Homo sapiens: one gene and its partner. The protein of the gene in region 2 binds, or shares a complex with, the protein of the main gene of each other region. Each region holds a gene or a part of one and is shown on either strand. Other genes may lie near its edges.

Evidence for each region.
Region 1: the proteins of KIF18A (region 2) and KIFBP are in contact, whole or in part, in a cryo-EM structure (PDB 7RSI), measured with the Homo sapiens proteins. Residues at the interface, in NP_112494.3 of Homo sapiens: Glu181, Thr183, Gln184, Lys185, Gly186, Arg274, Phe275, Val276, Glu277, Gly278, Thr279, Asn280, Ile281, Arg283, Ser284, Leu285, Leu288, Gly289, Val291, Ile292, Arg314, Lys317, Asp318, Gly322, Asn323; in NP_056449.1 of Homo sapiens: Ser150, Glu151, Tyr212, Tyr213, Gln216, His220, Gln238, Ile251, Asn252, Thr255, Gln258, Asn262, Gly414, Tyr415, Val459, Asp460, Leu461, Asn462, Pro463, Gln464, Leu467.

What each region holds. Positions count from the first base shown.
Region 1 is NC_000010.11:68,984,943-68,991,802, reverse strand, and holds the start of KIFBP (KIF-binding protein), read right to left. Parts: upstream 3,001-6,860; 5' UTR 2,971-3,000; coding exon 2,545-2,970; intron 676-2,544; exon of another isoform or gene 1-675. UniProt on the Homo sapiens protein: Activator of KIF1B plus-end-directed microtubule motor activity. Required for organization of axonal microtubules, and axonal outgrowth and maintenance during peripheral and central nervous system development.
Region 2 is NC_000011.10:28,099,855-28,112,948, forward strand, and holds the start of KIF18A (kinesin-like protein KIF18A), read right to left. Parts: upstream 8,303-13,094; 5' UTR 8,210-8,302; exon of another isoform or gene 7,635-8,209; intron 1-7,634.

The DNA of each region.
Region 1 (6,860 bases), on a different chromosome or scaffold from region 2:
AAATCAACTCATTCTCTGTCAAAGAGTTCTTCCAAAATGCCAAGTCTACAAGAAGGGATGTGTGGCAAACCATCTGCATGGGGCTCTCCCACACCAGCCCACTCTCAGGCCCACAGCCTTTACCCTTTTGCTCAGGTGCACTTCAGAAGTGCAGGGATATTGAATGCCTGCTCAAGGTAGACCAAGGAGCCTTGATGGATGTCAGCTAGCTTTTTGTACTGCACGTGATGACCTCCAGCACTTGCTGCCAATGCCTTAGCTTTGTCAAGTGCTTCTGGACCAGTGCATGTCTCCAATGTTATTCATTTCTTAGTTCGGAGACATCGACATCCTCATTGATAACTTGCTCTGGTTTCTGGACAGATAATTGCAATCTTTTTTGTAGGAAAGAAATATTCTGTCTTGCAATATCCAGAAACTTGTGTATACACCGATCAACACCAGTTCCAATTTCTTCCTGATTGCTGCCATTGACATAGTCCTGACTTAACGGAGAGGCAAAGCAAGTCTGGAAAGATGACTCCATGTCATCCACCAAAGTACTGTTAGAAGGTCTCAGAGGCCCTGGAGCTGCTGGTAAGTAAAGGAAGCCTGGCCCCAGAGCCCCGGTGGTGGTTGGGGCCCCGATGGCTGCCCAAAGAACATACTGCCTAGCAAAGCAGCCATGCCTGGAATAATTTTTTTTTCTTATTTTTAGTAGCGATGAGGTGTCACTATGTGCCCAGGTTGGTCTTGAACTCCTAAGCTCGAGTGATCATCTCATCCCAGCCTCCCAAAGTGCTAGGATTACAAGTGTGAGCCACCACATCCGGCCTTTTCTACATAATTCTAAATATGGCTTATAGTCTTCTTCCTCCCTCTTCATATTGCCAATTTTTGTTAATATAAATTATTATTTTTAATAATTGTGTACTGTTCTTCTGTTTGGATGTAACGGAATTTAATCATATTCCTACTGACATTTATATTGTTTTCCTTTTCTTTGCTTTTTGAGACAGGGTCTCACTCTGTTGCACAGGCTGGAGTGCAGTGATACAATCTTGGCTCACTGCAGCCTTGACCTCCTGGGCTCAAGCGATCCTCCTGCCTCAGCCCTGCGATTTTCCTTCTTTAATAATCAACACTGCTGTGATAAACATCCATGTTCACCTGTCCCAATATTATTTTAACTTTTTAAAGTATTTTTCTTTTTTTCACCCCTTCTTTTCACAGGTGTTGACCAATATTACTTTAGAATATTGATGTGGATTTTGTTGTTGTTGAGAAAAGGTCTTGCTCTGTCACCCAGACTGCAGTTGCAGTGGCATGATCATGGCTCCTCCAGGGGCTCAAGTGATCCTCCCAGCTCAACCTAGCCTCCCCAGTAGCTAAGACTACAGGCGTGTACCACCATGCCTGGCTAGTTTTGTGGGTTTTTTGTTTTGTTTTGTTTTGTTTAAGAGACAGAGTCTCACTTTGTTGCCCAGGCTGGTCTTGAACTACTGACCTCACGCCATCCTCCCACTTCGGCCTCCCAAAATGCTGGGATTACAGATGGGAGCCACTGTGCCCTGCCCAGATTTATTTAAGAAACCAAGTACCATATAAATGGGAAACAAAAAGTATTATAAGAATTCAAAGGTAGGAGGGAGAGATCAGTTTGGCCCAAAATGGTCCCAAGAAAGTTATTAATACTAAAGGAAGTGATTCTTGAGATAGGTTTTCAAGAATGGGGAAGAATTCCCTAAGATGCAAACAAATGAATTTGGTAAGAAAGGAAGCTGCAGATTTTGGACATTTTATTTTGAATTAAGAATGTATTCCGAGCCAGGCACAGCGGCTCAGGCCTGTAATCCCAGCACTTTGAGAAGGTGAGCCAGAAGGATCACTTGAGTCCAGGAGTTCAAGACCAGCCTGGGCAATATAGTGAGACCCCCATCTCTACAGAAAATTAAAAAAATTACCAAGAATGGTGGCATGCGCCTGTGGTTCCAGCTACTATGAAGGCTGAGGCAGGAGGACTGCTTGAGCCCAAGAGGTGGAAGCTGCAATGAGCTATGATGGTGCCACTTAACTCGAACCTGGGCGACACAGTGAGACCCCATCTCTAAGAAAAAAACAAAAACAAGACAAAACCAAAAAAGAATGTACTCCGGTCATTGTCATTTCCTTGAGACGTTAAGATTTAAATTACTTTGGATTTTCTTAACAGAATGAACAGGAGTTGGACTGGTGGAGAGGAAAGCGCATGACGATGTAGGAGGGTCTCGGACACCAATGCATCGCCACGTCTAAGTGAAGCAGCAGCAAGCGATATTGGTGTGGGCGACGAGGGTGGACACGGAGTCTGGGGACGGCCGACTGTGGGAGATCTAGTTACAAGGCAATAAGTCCATAAGACTGGCTTTTTTGAAGACCACAGACGCTCTTTGGGACTCAGTCCAGAGCTACAAAAACGTGGGGACGAATTGCGCCTTACAACGTCTGCCCTTGGCCTTGGCAGGGGCTCCTCCCCATCCCTCGCCATTTGCCAACAGGGGCCGGCCTGGCCGGGCTCGCTCTCACCTGCGCCTGGATGCAGAGAGAGATGCAGTCGTGCGAGAGCCGGTACCTGCGCAGCAGCCGCAGGCATTTCACCAGGTGCTCCTCCCCCGCCGACAGCTCCTCCGTGTCGATGTGGTTCACCCCGAGGTGGAACTCGATGACTGCCAGCCTCACCGCTCGCTGGGCGACGGGCCCCTCGGGCTCCACCACCTCAGCCGGCAGCCCCAGGGCGTGGTCACCGGCACCCGGGCCGTCCTCGGCCTCAGGCCGCTCATCCTCGTCCTCAGGCGCAGGGCCGAGCAGCGCCTTGACCTCTTCCAGTAGCGCCCGGGCGCTGTATTTGGACTTGTATGGTTCCTTCTCCGGATTTTTATGCAGTTCCACCCGCGACAGAGCGAGCGCCGCCTGGAATTTCTCGCAGACCTCTGCCCACGGAACGTTCGCCATAGCGGCCTCTACTGCCTGGCTTTCCTCAATGTTTGCAGTCGGGACTCCCGCCTTCCTTCTGCTTTGCGACACTTTACTTACGGCTCTCGACACGTTGCGGCCGCTGTGGAATGGGAACCAATATAACCCTCCCGGAGAACCGCAATACGCTCGGCAATGACCAATGGGAAGACGCAGCAATCACCACAGCAACCATTCTCATGGAAATGAAGTTGTCAATGAGCGTGTTCCCACCTCCTTCCCCGCCCCCTGCAGCGGTGAGTTTATCTCCAGATTGACCCTGTGAGGATGGATTTATATAAATGTTTAATATCGGCTTACTTTAACGAAGCATATCGGAATATTGTTTACAAACATAGCTAGCTAACTCTACTCGCGTTGATATGAACTGAAAGGCAAAAACCTTTAGACATTAAGTGTATAGCCCAGCCTGTCACTGGATAAAACTTTTTTTAAAAAAGGCCAGGCGCAGTGGCTCATATCTGCAATCCTAACATTTTGGGATGCCAGTAACATTTTGGGATGCCCACTGGAGTGGGCAACATAGCAAGACCCATCTCTACATAATTTTTTTTAAAAAATTAGCCGGGCGTGGTGGCGCGCGACTGTAGTCCCAGCTACCATGGAGGCTGAGGCGGAAGGATGGCTTGAGCCCAAGAGGTGGAGGTTACAGTGAGCGAGACTGCCTCAGAAAAAAAGAAAACACGAGCATTAGAACAAATACCTAATGTATGCGGGGCATAAAACTTAGCTGACAGGTTGATAGGTGCAGCAAACCACCATGGCACATGTATACCTATGTAACAAACCTGCATGTTCTGCACATGTATCCCAGAACTTAAAAGTAAAATAAAAGAAAAAAAATTGAAATGTAGCCAAGAGCTGATTATTATCATTGACACATAATCTCTTGATCGAGAGCCATAAATATACAAAACACTCAGTGATAGACAAATATTTTCACTTCGACCCTGAAATACAGGTTGTAGGAATCTGTACAACTGCCCAAGGTAACAAGAGCTAAGTCCCACAGCTGTGAAAGCCGCCTCATGCCTTTTACCTTCCTAAGTTATCAAGTCAAATGGGGAGGGGTGATAGAAGATTTTAACTATTAAGCACCAGCTGTGTACAGTGCTTTGAGACATACAAAGGAGCATTGATTTTGGGAGCTCATAGACATATGGTTTGAACCTCAGACCAACCAGCTTTCTTATTGACAAGTTAACTTTTTTAAGCTTCAGGTTTCCCACAGTAAAATCTGAATGATACTACTTACCTCGACAGAATTATTCTGAAGAATAAATAAAATTAAACGTCTATCCTTTAAGTGTTAATGCTCCTAAAAAGTCCTTCCTAAACCTTATCCCTGGGAGATCTCATCCATTTCCAGGTCTATCATTAAACACGCTGCTCACTCCCACTTTGTCTCCAGGCCAGATGGCTCTCCAGAGCTCCAGACTGGAATATCCAACATCCAGCTACAACAATCACACCTGAATGTTTCAATAGCTGCTGTGTGTCAGTATGTTCAAGTCTAAATGATCTTCCTCTTCACATGCCCCTTCCTTCCCATACCAAATTTGCCACATTTGCAGTTCTACATGTCAGTGAATGGCACCACCATCCACCAGGCTGATTTCCTGCACTTTTTTTTTTTTTTTTGGTAGAGATGGAGTCTTGCCATGTTGCCCAGGCTTATCAAGCAATCCTCCCACCTCAGCCCCCTAAAGTGCTGGGATTACCAAGCCCAGCCTGTTCTGTCATTCTTTTTTTTTTTTTTTTTTTTTTTTGAGACGGAGTCTTGCTTTGTTGCCCAGGCTGGAGTGCACTGGCGTGGTCTCAGCTCACTGCAACCTCAACCTCCTGAGTAGTTGGGATTACAGGTGTGCACCACCACACCTAGCTAATTTTTGTATTTTTGGTAGAGACGGGGTTGGGGGGGCGGTTCACCATGTTGGCCATACTGGTCTCGAACTCCTGACCTGAAGTAATGTGCCCGCCTTGGCCTCCCAAAGTACTGTGATTACAGGCGTGAGCCACTGCACCAGGCCTCTTCTGTCATTAAACCTAAAACCAGATAGTACTGCTTAGTCCACCTCCTAAAGAGCTCTGTGTACATCTTTTTATCTCCATTAGTTTAGGCCACCATCATCTGATTACTTCTAACAGGCAGTCCTGCTGCCAGTTTGGCCTCCTATCAGTGCATCTCCCAGTACATTTAAAATGATTTGGGCCAGGCGCAATGGCTCACACCTGTAATCCTAGCACTTTGGGAGGCCAAGGTCGCGGGATCGATTGAGCCCAGGAGTTCAAGACCAGCCCGGGCAACATGGCAAAACCCCGTATCTACAAAAAAATAAATAAATAAATACAAAAATTTGACAGGCATGGTGGTGGATGCCTGTAGTCCCAGCTACTCAGGAGGCTGACATGGGAGATCACCTGAACCTGGCAGTTGGAGGCTGCGGTGAGCTGTGATCAAGCCGCTGCACACCAGCCTGGGTAGCAGAGTGAGACCCTGTCTCAAAAAAAAAAAAAAAAAAAAAAAATTTGTTCACCTGTTCAATATTTAGTTATCTATTATTTGCCAGCACTGTTGTAGGTGCTGGGAATTCAGCAGTAAAAAATGGATAAAAATTCACCAGCCTGGACAATATAGTGAGATCCCTGGCTCTACAAAAAACATCTTTTTTTTTGAGACAGAGTCTTGCTCTGTCACCCAGGCTGGAGTGCAGTGGCATGATCTCAGCTCACTGCAAATTCTGCCTCCCGGGTTCACGCCATTCACCTGCCTCAGCCTCCCAAGTAGCTGGGACTACAGGCGCCCGCCACCATGCCCAGCTAATTTTTCTACAAAAAACATTTTTAAAGAAATATTGGCCAGGTGTGGCGGCACATGCCTATAGTCTTAGCTAAGTGGGAGACTGAAGTAAGAGGGTCATTAGAGCCCAGGAGTTCAAGGCTGCAGTGAGCTATGATCATGCCACTGAACTCCATCCTGGGTAACAGATAGAGACCCTGTCTCAAAGAAAGACAAAAATCCATGCCCCGGTATAGGGAAAACACTAAATATATTAAATACATAAACCTCAATGCAATGACTGGAGATCCATCTCATGACAGATAATTAGAAGAGGGCGGGCATGGTGGCTCACACCTATAATCCCAGCACTTTGGGAGGCCAAGGCAGGACGATTGCTTGAGGCCAGGGGTTCACAAACAGCTTGATCAACAGAATGAGACTCCATCTCTATAAAAAATTTAAATATTAGCCAGGTTTGGTGGTACCCCCCTGTAGTCTCAGCTACTTGGGAGGCTGAGAGGGAAGATCACTTGAGCCTAGGAGTTCAAAGCTGTAGTTCTACCTTTAGAAAACGTATCCTAAGGTGACAGACGAGTATGCAAACACATATGTGAGGATATTAACTTTAGGGTTGTTTATAATGGTGAAAAATTAGAAATAACCAACATGGACATCGAGTACTGGTTAAATGTGTAGTGGCATATCCATACAAGAAAACATGTCATCAAAAATGTCCATGTAAGCCTGTACAAAATTGTGCACAACATGTTGAGGGGGGAAAAGCAATACACAAAATCAAATAATTCCAATTTTATAAATGAACATGTGGAAGACTGCTCACTAAAATATTAGATAAGGGTGACTGGTTTTTTTTCTCTTTAGATTTTTATATCTAGCTTTTATTATTTTTATAATAAATATTTCAAGCTATTTTCATTTTAGAAAACAAAAGCCACTAAAATCAAGTATTACTATCTTTATTATGGTATACAGCAGTATTTTATACATTAGCTCATTTTATAGTAAAAACATTTATGCACAACTGTAGAGAAACTGCTGCACAGATAGCTCCAACTTAAATTAGAAA
Region 2 (13,094 bases):
CGTTTTGAGCACAGGAGTGACATAATCTATCACTCTCACTGCTATGTGGATAATATAATAGACTAGTCTATTGAAGTAATGTAGACAAGAGACAACTCTGTCAGCTCAGAATAGGGTAGTGGCAGCAGAGGTGGTAAGTGGTCAGATTATGGGTGTATTCTGAGGGTAAAGGTGACAGAATTTACTGACAGGTAGATGTAGAGTGAAAGAGAGAGACAGGATTGAAGAATAACTCCAAGGTTTTTGGCTTGAGAATTAGAAGGATAAAGTAGTCACCAACTGAGATGGAAATAAGAAGCAGGGCTTTTTTCAGCAGGGCGGGAAGTGGTGGGAGGCAGGGTCAGATCAGTTCAGTTTTGGATAGCTTAAGTCTCAGAGTTTTGACAGACATCCAGGTGGAAATGTCAGGGCAGGTGGAAGTTAAGAAAATAAGAAAATAAAGGCTGTCCTCAGTCTTAATGCAGTATTAAGCTTTAAAAACTTTCGGGAAATCCTAAATGAAGGAGGAAACAGCGATCTATTGTGTTAAATACTGCTAATAGGTCAAGTACTTACTGAGAATTAACCATGGGATTTACTAACACAGAGGCCATCGAGAAAAGCAATTTTGGGGCAGTAGTGGGGAAAAAACCCGAAAGGAGAAGATCCATAGACAAGGTATATGGAAAGGACTGTTTCAAAGGGAGGAGAAAAATGGTGTGAGTGAAGGGGGGGGGTGGTGTCAAGATGTTTTGTTTGTATTTTTTTTTAAATGGGAGAAATAGCAATATTCAAGCTGAAATATGTCACAAAACCACTTAGCCATATACTTTCGGACAGAATTCAAATAAGGACAGAATTCAAAGGAATCTAAAAGCAGTAGATGCTAGACATATCTTTGCCTTTTTAGGACTCTGTCTTTGGCCAAAAATAGAATACTGAAAAGGAAGGGATGGTCATTTGGATTCTAAGTCAGGTCCCAGGTGAATTACTACTTTGTTTTTCATCCCTGAGCTTCCGTCTAGCCAAGTGTCACAAAGCACCTACACCTCACTTTTATGACCTTGGACAAGTTACTTAACCCCATGAGTCTCAGGTTTCTATTTGTATAAAAGAGATAATAATACCTCAATGTTTGTTGCAAAGGCTAAAAGGGGTAAGTATTAAGGTATTCAGTAAATACCAATTCTCTTCCTATCTGCCCCACTCCTGCTTCTTCTTGCCAAAGAGACTGAGTTCATCTTTTGAGTTTTTCTCAATGGGCTTATGACTAGCACTTTGGGTAGGCCAATTCTTCCTTGCTTAGAACTGCCCTGTTATAGGGCATTTAGAACTGCCCTATTAGAGGATGTTTGGCATTTCTCTCCCCTGTCTATTAAAGGCCAGCAGTGTCCCATATTCCTTGTGATAACAAAAACTATCTCCTATACACATTTCTAAAAGCTTTTAGAAATATTCAACAATATTTTAACAGATATACTATTTTTAAATGATAGATTAAATATACATAAATGAAATTGTTAACAAAGTAAACATAAAATACTAAGTGATTATTTCAAAATAAACCTTAGAATCTCAAGGCTGGAGGATATCCCTCCCTAATTAATTAGTTAATTAATTCATGACAACTATTACATGTTGGAGCCAGGCAGCCTAGGTTAAAATCTCAGCTCTATGACGTACTGACTGTGATAGTGGATAAGTTACTTAACCTCCTTGTGGCTCAGCTTCCCCATCTGTAAAGTAAGACTAACAACAGTACCTATCTCATAAAGTTGTAAAGATTACACACTTAGAACAATACTTTGTACAGAGTATGAACTACAAGTGTTTGCTATTATTATTTACAGTGTAGTGAGGGAAACAGATATTAATAAAATATTGACACAAACATGTAAAGGTATAACTGTGACAAGTGCCATTATAGGGAAAAGGTTAACAGTGCTTTATAAGACTATAATGAGGGGATTATTTAAGTAACATTCCAGGGAGAAATTTGGACAATTACCTAAAGGAATGAGGACTAAACTCTGATTTTTTATTTTGCCCAAATTCCTATCTAAGGGGTCTGGGGAGTCACGCCCTATAAATCATGGATTTTCATTAGATGCGTTTTATTTGACCCCGTATATTGTGACTTGCTTTTCAATTGACTCTGGCATAACATTATGAGACAAAGAAAAAATATTTAACACCCAAAATAGATTTACTTGCCAAGCCTTGAAATTGCCCTGCAAAGTTTCTTGTTGGAAAAGTCCACGTTCTATAGAGAATCCCCTTCCCTCTTTGTTTTCCTCTTTTCTTTGCAGATCCAGTAGATAATCAACTAAAAGCCAGGCACCCTTTTAGCTCTGCGGAGAAACATTTTACAACCTGCTCTCTCTCTCTGAAATTTGCTGAGAGCTTCCTCTGCAAAATAAAACTTGGTCTCCACAATTATTTTTAACCTGAACATTCCTTTCTATCAATCCCAGGTCTTTAGACAAACTCAACCAATTGTCAACCAGAAAATGTTTAAATTTACCTATAGCTTGGAAGCCCCCGCTTTGAGTTGTCCCGCCTTTCTGAACCAAACCAACGTATTTCTTAAATGTATTTGATTGATGTCTCATGCCTCTCTAAAATATAAAAAACCACGCTGTACACTGACCACTTTGGGCACATGCTCTCAGGACCTCCTGAGGGCTGAGTCATGGGCCATGGTCACTCATATTTGGCTCAGAATAAATCTCTTCAAATATTTTACAGAGTTTGACTCTTTCAGTCAATAGAATTTAAGTATAATGTCAAATATAACTTTGTTTCACAACTAGTTGCATATTTTAACAAAGACATGGATGTTAATTTTTAAAGTATCATGTATTTCCCTATCTTTTAAAAACAAATATGTGGATAGAATTTTCTTAATAAAAATGCCTAAGGTCAACAGAATCATCAAATGTAAAAATTAATCTATGTTCAAATATACTTACATCTGCAGGAATTAATGAGATCGTTCCTACATTATTATGTGGTGCCTTCTTTGTTTTCTAGGATGGCTGACTAAAAGAAATGAGCATTTAGTTGATTCTGAATAAGGCACAGAGAGAGTAAATTCTTCAACCATGTTTAATATGAAGCAGCAAAAGAAAAGCCTAAATATCGTTATCTGCGCAAGAATGTGTGGATTCACAAATTCTTTTCAGACAGCTGTTCAGAAGATAGTATTATAGCCTCTGATCAATTTTGTCCTATCTACCCCTAAGTGGTATTTACTGAACAGAATCAAAAGAGCAAACTGGTAGGATTTCATTGGTGGAACTAAAACATGAAAGACAAATACTTCCAACGTGATTATTCATTATAATCAGGTTGAGCATTCCAAATTTGAAAATCTAAAATCTAAAACTTTGTGAGCACCAACATGACACTCAAAGGAAATGCTCATTAGAGTATTTTGGATTTTCAGATTAGAGATCCTCAACCAGTAAGCACAATGCAAAAATTAAAAAAAAAAAAAAATTCCAAAATTCAAAAAAACTTCTGGTACCAAGCATTTTATATAATAGATACTAAACCTGAAGAAGAATATTTGTCTAGTCTAGAGAGAGTAGGGTATCAAAAAAGAAGAATGAAGGGGCTAAGGAAAGGGGCTTTACTTGCTAATGTATAAAACAAAAGGGTTAGATTATATGATACGGAAAGTCTTTTTCTAGCTCCAAAATTTTATGATTATTATGCATGATTAGAAAAGGGTACAAGAGAATAAGAAATGACAGTTAATAGACTTTTACTTTATATCCCTATTCTCTCATAGAGAGTCTAGTATATAGTAAATTTTCAAATATACCAATGAATGAATTAATAAACTATAAAAAATGCTCACAGACCCCAAAAAGCAATTTACTCACTTAGAGTAGAAGGAAAAAGAAAATGTATATCTCCAAGAGAAACAACATATTAGAGTACAATAGTTGACAACAACAGGCAATCACAATGAGAACCCTGAGGCATCAAAAAGAAAAAAATAAGAAAGAAATAATGTTCCCAATTTCTTGTTTAGAAAATTAAAGAAATGGCAAGATCATGTTTTATTTTCATCATTAAGTGTGGTTAAAATACTTTATTACTTAGCAAAGCTAATATTCAATTTTCTGGAAGATTCATTTATGTAGAACAGCTCATGCCTCTGCAATGTTTAATGAGGTATTAAAATCTATTTATCCTGAATACTTGCATGGTAATAAGCCAAGTTGAACAGGTCAATTTTTAACTTATAACATATGTAGCTAGTGCTCATCCCAGATTAAAGATTCACCCCTAATTATATGCAAGTACAATAAATTTTATTTAATTCATTGATTGTATGCACTGATACTTTCTTCAAAAGCATTCAGATCATGATATGTATTGCATGTCATTTACCTGCTCCAAACTATCCAATGACTTCTCATCATAAGAATAAAATACAAACTCCTTACCATGGCCTATAAATTCCACATATGGCCCTGCCTACCTCTCTGACAATGACTTCTACTGCTGTCTCCCCATTTCATTATTCTGCTTCAGCTGCAATGACTTTCTTAGCATTCCTAAAACACTTCAGTCTTGTTTTGGCCTCCTGGCTTTTTTATTTTTGCTTACTGGCAGGCATTACCTCCAGATATTTGCAAATTGTAATCCCTCACTTCATTATTCAGGTCTCTTCAAATGCCACTTTACAGAGGCTTTCCCTAAAGAATCTATCTAAGATAGTGTCACCCTGCCTTTGCTTCTCCAATCCCTTACTAGGTTTATTTTTCTTTCTTGAGTTTAGCACTAATTGGAAAGTATATGTTATCTGGTTACATATTTATTGCTTGTTTTCCCTCTAGAATGTAAGCACTGTGAGAGCACGGAGTTCATCTGCACACCAGCACCTAGGACACTGCTTGTCAAATATTTAGGACCCAATAAATACTTGTTGAATAAATGAATGAATAAACCAGTACAGTTTTAATAGACTTATAGCATGTTACCATTTGTATTTTTAAAAGATATATATGTATATGCATGGTCATTCCCAGAAGGGTACACAAGAAATTGATAATACCACTTTCCCTATAGAAGGGAAATATGAAGGTCTGAGTGAGAGACAGGTTTATTTTCCATTTCATATTCTTTTGTAATATTTAAATTTTAAACAAGGTCTAGGTATTTTTATTTCAAAACAGACAAACAACAACAACAAAACCACTATTAAAATTTACCTTAATCGCAACATTTAATTTAGTAACAATAAGTTATATTTTCTATTGAGCTCATATCCCACAAATAGAAATGTACTAACAATTGACATACTCTTACTAAATCGTCATAACAACCTATGACATAAACCCTGTACTGTCATTCCTATTTTATTAAGGCAGAAAGTGTAATACAGAGAAATTAACTGGCTAAAGTCACACAACTGAGGAAGCACATGCCATGGGATTTGAACTCAGACTGACTGAATCTAAAGGCCAAATACTTAATCACTACTCTCCCTGATGTAAATATATAACCCTCAGAAATTTTCTTATAGAAGTTAAAAATATATATATTGCTTACTTTTTTAGAAATTTTAAAACATTTAATTGGCAAAGATTGTATAAAACGAAGATGTACAATGTGATGGTCTCATATTCTTATACACAATGGAATGATTACCACAATTAAATTAATACGTCTATCACCATTGATGCTGTACATTAAATGCCATGAACTTATTTATCTTATAACTTAAAGTGTACCCTTTGACCAAAATCTCCCTATTTCCCCCAAAACTCAGCTTCTGGTACCACTCTCTTATATTTCCTTACTTTTGATAGAAACCTCAGGGCCTGGCACAGGAGCTCTTGAATGTGAAAATAAAACTGATTATGATTTCTCTGTACTTGTCAGATATCACAGAGTGGCCATTCTCAATAAGTATGCTTTAACAATGCTTAGATTAGGTTGATATGGTGATAATTATTAATAATGAACAACAATGCTTTTCATTTGAGTATGTACACTCTGTCTCATGCATTATAGTAAACACTTGACATTCGTCATTGCATTCAATCCTTATAATAATCACGTAAGGTAGGTTGTAGTAGTATTTCCATTTTACAAAAACAAAGACTTAGCCTTAGGATAAGTAACTTTTCCAAGATGACGTAACAAGTGGGCAACCAAATGTCAAATATAAGTCAATTCAGTCAAAGATTCACCCCTAATTTTATGAAAGTACTATAATAAATTTAATTCATTGATTGTATTCACTGATACGTTCATCAAAAGCATTCAGATCATGTGATGCATCACATGGCATTCACCTGCTCTAAAGTCTCCAATGACTTCTCACCAGAAGAATAAAACACAAACTCCTTAACGGGTACAAATCTAAAGTCCATGTTATTAACAGCTAGGTTCTACTGGAATCAGAAGAGAATGCTTCCAAACAATGATACAGAAGTAGAGTGACAGTTATGATATATTAAATACAAACTCAAACCTGAATTAGATTCAGATTCAACAAACACTGTATAGGACTGAAAACGATACTCAACACTATCATCTACAGTCCATCTTAAAGCTCTTTTTGGAATATCAGTCTTGGGGGCACTACTCCCACCAACTTACAACCATCAGGGAAGAATAAAAGGTTCAACTGGAGGGAAGGCCGGCACTGACAGCTGAGCTATTTTTTTTCCTCTTAGTTTTCACAGTTGTCAGCAAAAAAAAAAAAAAAAAAAAAATCATTTTTATCGTGTCTCTTAATTGATTTGGGGTATTTCTATGATGGGACAAGATGCACTTTCAATATAAAAATATTATGTATTTGTAAATACTTTTCAATAGTAGAAGAGGAAGGGCTGGGTGCCCTGCCTCACACCTGTAATTCCTGCACTTTAGGAGGCCGAGGCGGGCAGATGGCTTGAGGTCAGGAGTTCGAGACCAGCCTGGCCAACACAGTGAATCCCCGTCTCTACCAAAGATACAAAAATTAGCCGAGTGTGGTGGCAAACGCCTGTAATCCCAGCTACTCGGGAGGCTGAGGCACGAGAATTGCTTGAACCTGGGAGGTGGAGGTTGCAGTGAGCAGCGATCACGTCACTGCACTCCAGCTTGGACCACAGAGCGAGACTCTGTCTCAAATAAATGAATAAATAATAGAAAAGGAGATTAATTACTACTATTAAAGGCAGATAATCTTTTAAGTTTTTTTCTTTGTGATTGTGCTTTGTAGATAATCTTTGTTTATTGAAATAGTTCTTACAAACTATGAACTTAATAAGAAGCACTATCTAGTCATTGGATATCACATTCTCTAGCATCAAAGTTTATAAAAACCTTACAAAAACGAAACAGGAGGCTAGACGTGGTGGAATGACACTAAAAATTAAAATCTGTAGAGTGCCTAAATTTCTACCTAATTATCCATAATCTAAACTATATATTATACCACAAAATCAGTTCATTCTGGTCAAATACTCTCTTCTCATATAATAAACAGCAGTCAGTCTTGGCTTCTCTGTAACTGAGTGACTAATGAGCTCCTAAAAAAAAAAAAAAGTCCTGCGGAAACCAAGAACAGACTATAGGACTGATTCTAAATGTTTACAGTTTAATTTCATCTGCAGAGCATTTGCCAAACAGTATCTCTTCCGTACCTCATCTGATCCTCGGCAATCCCGTTAGGCAGTCAGAGCGGCTTTTATCTCGATGCTACCTACAACTGGGGCTCAGGAGGGGTTCCCGATTGACCAGTGCAAGACTAACAGTTAAAGCTCTTCAGACAAAAATTTTATGCAGTGATGAACAAAAGCTCCTCGTTTGATAGGTAAGCCCCTGGGTACGCTTATATGTGAGTCTGAAACAAAACACTCCCAATTTGGAGTCCGGAAAAAAGCTGACACTACAAGGTGCTGGGCAGTTAAAGTTCTCTGCCAGTCTGGGAAAGGGGCCAAGATGCCCTTTAAAACTTAAGACTTCCTCTCAGGACTTAAGGAGATCCCTGCCCTTCCAGCTGAGCAGTCGAGGATTACGGTCAAGCAGAGCTGTGCTCTTAGCAGGTTCTCGAATCCCTTTTTCCTTTCACTTTCTCCCCAGGTACCCTGATCCCCCACCCCTCAACGCTTCTGTGTTTGTCAAGAAGCCCACCTGGTCTTCTAGACCTGAAGCGGCAGGACCCTCCGTTCCCAATAATACAAGTCACCAAAAGGAGCGTCCCAGAGTCCAGTTTTACCTTCATGTGCCTCTCACTCACTTCAGGCCCAGGCCAGGTTACCGCAACCACTTCACTTTAATGTCCGCCTCCCAGCGCTTCAGACTCAACCACAATATTCAAACCCAAGCCACTTTCCTCAGCGCTTCGTTTCATTGGCTGCCGCTCGCGTGATGTCATCACGTCGGACGCTGTCACGGCTCGCGGCAGCTTGGCGCCAAGAAGCTCAGCCTGGCTGCGCAGGGGAAGCTCTTTGCTTGCTCGTCACCGTGGCAACGCGCGCGGCCGTTTCCGGAGGCGGTGGCCAAAGTGGGCGGGGCTAGGCCGGAGCTGCTGGTGGGAGGCAGCCACTTGAGATCACCAGGCCTCCTGTAGACCGGCGGGTGCAGGGCCCGGTCCCAGAGTTAAGGGTGTGAGTGAGACTGCTGCGGGCAGGGGTTGGCCTATGCCCTCTGCTAGGGGGAGAGGTGGAGTTTGGGTGTGGATTAATGGGTTCTGGGTGTTTATTTTCTTTTCTCTGAGTAGTGAGGCCTCCAAGAAGTTGTAGGGACCTGTTTCTTCCAGACACATTAATATGGGCCAAAATGTGGGGTCTCTTCACCTGAATTAATTGGAGATCTTTTGGGTTGAGGCCTCAGGCTTCATTTCTCAGGACTTCCAGGCCTACTCCCATTAGTACTGACCGTGAAACTATTTTCTGTTTGGTTACTTTTTACATTCTCTGTCTAATGATGGCATAACAAAATAAATTTAAAGATTTTGGCTTGGTTTATTATTAGGTGAAGTGATTTTTTTTAAGTCCCAGGTTATAGATATTATTTCAGCATAGACACTTTAAAAAGAGAGAAAATACCTGGAACAAATCGGAAATACGTTTGCTAAAATAACTTTATTTGGCAGGGTGTTTTTAATAACAGTATCTGAATTTCATTGTTCTATATATTACTGTTATTGTATCCATTTAGCAATTATTTAGATTTTAGACACAATAGTATGCAATGGAATCAAACTCTTCCCTCTTGGAGCTTATATTTTGTGGATTCAATATCACTTTATAAATAGGATGACTCATACCCATGCAGAGTATTATAAATGCAACAATATATGGAAACCTCTGTATTATGGACATTTATTTCCTGTTGAGGAAAATCGGGAGTATTGTGTACTGTATGTGATGCATGTTATATTATTGTTTCTGATCACTAGACAGAGGATCAATAAAGCTACTACTTATTTTTGGCTGTATTACGTGTATCTTAGCTAATGAAATGGTTATTTGTGTGCTGCTGGTCTTGGTAATAAAATCGAGATGTCTTTATTTCCAGTAAGAACTCATTGTATAGTACTTTACGTTTTGACTTCCCAGGTATTTTATTAGTCCCTTTACATATGGTCTCTCAGTTAATTCTCAAAACAGCCCATGAGACGTAGGTAATATTATTTTCATTTTTCTGAGAGAAAACTGAAGTTTTCAGAAAATTCCTAACACAAAATTTTGTCTTGAACTATACAGGCAAGGCAATTCAGAATTGAGTCATTTGTCTCTGAAATACTTTCTGGATTAAGTGACATTAAGAGAATATCTTAATCCAGTCTGAAAATATGCATATTTTGCCAGTTGCTTGTAAAATTGCATGGATCATTGGTGAAGAATAGAAGTGTTTTAAAGTTTGTCTTTTTTGACACCCACATTGTATAAGGTTTATCAGTGCCACAGATGTTTTCACACCTAATCCAAGTACTTTAGATTTCAAATTCAGTGTTACACTTGCCATTTAACAGTGTTCAGATGATGAGGTCCATATTTTAAAGGAATTGTACATTTGGTTAAAGCAGAGAGATTTTGACATTACAATCAATCCCACTACTGTGCCACCTTGCTCCTTGTAGTTTCTAAACATAGAGCTAATGAGACAGAAATTCCCACTTTTAGTTAAAAATTGGAGTATAACTGCTGTGTTATCAGAATACAAGTTTAATATACTTTCATTGTAAACCAAAGAGCAGAGATAAGGATAAATGAAAAGTTAGATTTAAAGTTGTTTCAGACCAAAAAATAAAAATGGAAAAAGTAAAAGTGAATTTAAACATGGCAATAGTGAGGTCTTATTTATTTCCCCCAGGAAAGTCGTTTGGAAACCCCAGGCCAACAGGACCCTTTGGCAGCTGAGGCTGGAAACAGCGGAACCAAAGGCAGACGGTCCTCAGTTGCTTGGGCGGACGTGGACCCAATCTGTCCGTCCTTACAAGTTTCCCCCAGGGGCAGGACCTAGACGCGCGGCGCATTCAGGTTCTCCTGGACCGTAGTGGTAGTCGCTGGCCCGAGTTAGAGGCCAGCTGAGAAGTCTTCGTGCTTCAGGTGAGGAGAAGGGGACCGAGTCCCGGGAACTCGTTTTGGAAACCACCAAACCTTTGGGGGTACTCCACAGGGGTCGCTGGATTCGTCCGGAGCAAAAGAAAAATACGCCCCTGACCCTCTCCCTCTCTTCAACACGCCTTCAACCTGGGTTTGGAAGTTTCCGAATAGTTTTTCCTCGTCAGAGCGTAATTCTTAGGCAAAAGGGTGTATTTTTCTCTTTCCTTAGAACCTCTTTCACTTTCTCAGCGTTCGTGTGCCAGCCGCCACGTCGCGTTTTTGTCCTTAAAAATTACATTTTCAAACAGGATTTCCCTGCCAGACAAAATTGACTGCAATGATTATAATTGTTAGAGCCCTTGAGGGAGTATCCTTCATGGGCATCACTCACCTGTGTGTTTTCACAATTAAAAGAGTAATCTGGCAATTTTATGCTCTCAACAGCCAAAAGTGAACTTTGCTTGTAGAGAAAAGTTAAATGACTTAACTAGGAGATCACAGAGGCAGTTTTCCTGACTCCCTGCTTCCTTATGACCAGAGGGAACTTAATCTTAAATCATTTAGGGTAGCTGGCCACTAGCAGACTGCAGGAGAGCTCCAAGTTGTCTGGTAGGAAACTGGGCTCCAAAAGAGAAGAATATAATTTTCTTTAGAGCATGCCACACCCCCAGCTTCCATTTTTTTAGGGAGGTATTGCAGGAAACAAGAGGCAAATGAACTATTTGTCACCCTTTCTCCAGGTTGACTCAAGTTGGCAGGCAATTAGTTCATAATAAAATATTCAGGCTTTGTGCCTTGACCATAGTTGAATAAACACATAGAGACTGAATGCAATAGAAAAAAATTAAATGCAAGTGATAGCGTTTTTTGTTTGTTTTTCCCCCGCTACTCTGCGTTTTCCTGTATAGTTCTTATTCCTATGTTAGAATTGATGATACTACTTTTCTTTTTAGTTATCAAAATCTGGACATATAGGGTAGGTTGTTCCAGAGTTCACTTTTTAGGCGTATACATTGTACGTTCATTACTGGGAACCCCGCAGCATACTGTTATTTTTAAGTGGAACAGAGCCAAGCCATTGGATGTCGGTTCCTTAATAAAATGAATCTATGAGATATTACAGATATATAGTCAATTTAATTGAAGTACTATTAAATTACATAAGTGGATTAAATAGTTCCAGTGGGCAATGTTTATAGCATGGAGATTGAGTTCAGGCTCTGGGGGTAGACTGTGTTACAATTTTAGCTTTACGGCTCTCTAGCTATGTGGCCTTTGGCAAATTACTTCTCTGTTTTCCCTGTCTATAAAATGGGAATAATATTTCAAGAGTCGTGGTAAGGATTGAATGAGGTAGCGCATGTAGTGTGGTTATAATAGTAAGTGGTGCTTAGTAAGTGCTAAATAAATGTTAGCTATTATTTTGTAAACTGTTAGAAACACTAAGTCAGAGGGTAGTTGAGCTTACTTTTGTACGCTTTCCAGAAACCTTAGGCATAATTAATAATTTGGCTATTTCATTGCTGCCAAGCAACCAAAAATCTACTTAGATCACTCATTCCCCCCCCCACCGACATTTTTTCAATGTCACATTTGCCACACAATTCTGCAGATTATAGCTTTGGTGAAGTTAACATATTATCCTCAAGGTAACATCTTGTTGATGTTACATCATATTTGTATTTCTTTGTGTTTTATTACGTGTGATCAGCTTTTCAACGTTTTTAATTTTTTTTATTGCAAAAGGAAAGACAGACATATTTAAGTGGGATTTATGCTTCTTGTAGTATTTTGAGAACATATGGTTTTTGGTGGGGTCAGTCATGCAGGGGAAATTTCCCAAAGTGAGGATTGATAACAATGCTAATTCTGTGGAGTCTGGAATTAATCCATTCATTCATTTTCTTCAGAAAACATTTATTAAGCACTGATGTGCATCTTATTTTGTGTATACGAAGGTGTGGGTCATATTCTTAAATAACTAATAACCTGTAAGGAAAGAATAGTGTTAACTGGGTAGTATCAAGCGGTGTTTACTGTGGTAGTATCAAAAACTTTGCTTGAAACCAGCTGGGTATAAAATGCATGGTGTTTTCAAAAGGTCTCCTGTTAATATATGTACATAAATCCTTTTTTTCTTCTGCATTTTAAAGAGTTATGGATTGCTGAAGAAAATGGAGCACCTATGGTAAATCCAAGGAATATATCAATTATTTGTTTTTTGGGTGCCGGGGACAGATAATTAAAGGTAGACATGAAATACCGAAGTGTGCTCAGTTGAGTGTTTATACAGTCATAGTTTAAACTGATATACACTCCACTGATACAGGGTACAGGGAGATGATCTCGTCAGAGAATCGGACTGATAGACTGATTATCTTTTTTATTTTTTGGATGTGCATGCGTAGTCTTTTCCCAGGGATAGTCTCTGAAGATGAGAATTTAGCATTGTGAGAAAAACAAATACAAGAGCTTGAAATAGAAGACCATCTGAATCTAAAATGTAATACTTTTAATCCGTTCAGTCATCCTGATTACTTTTCAAATAAA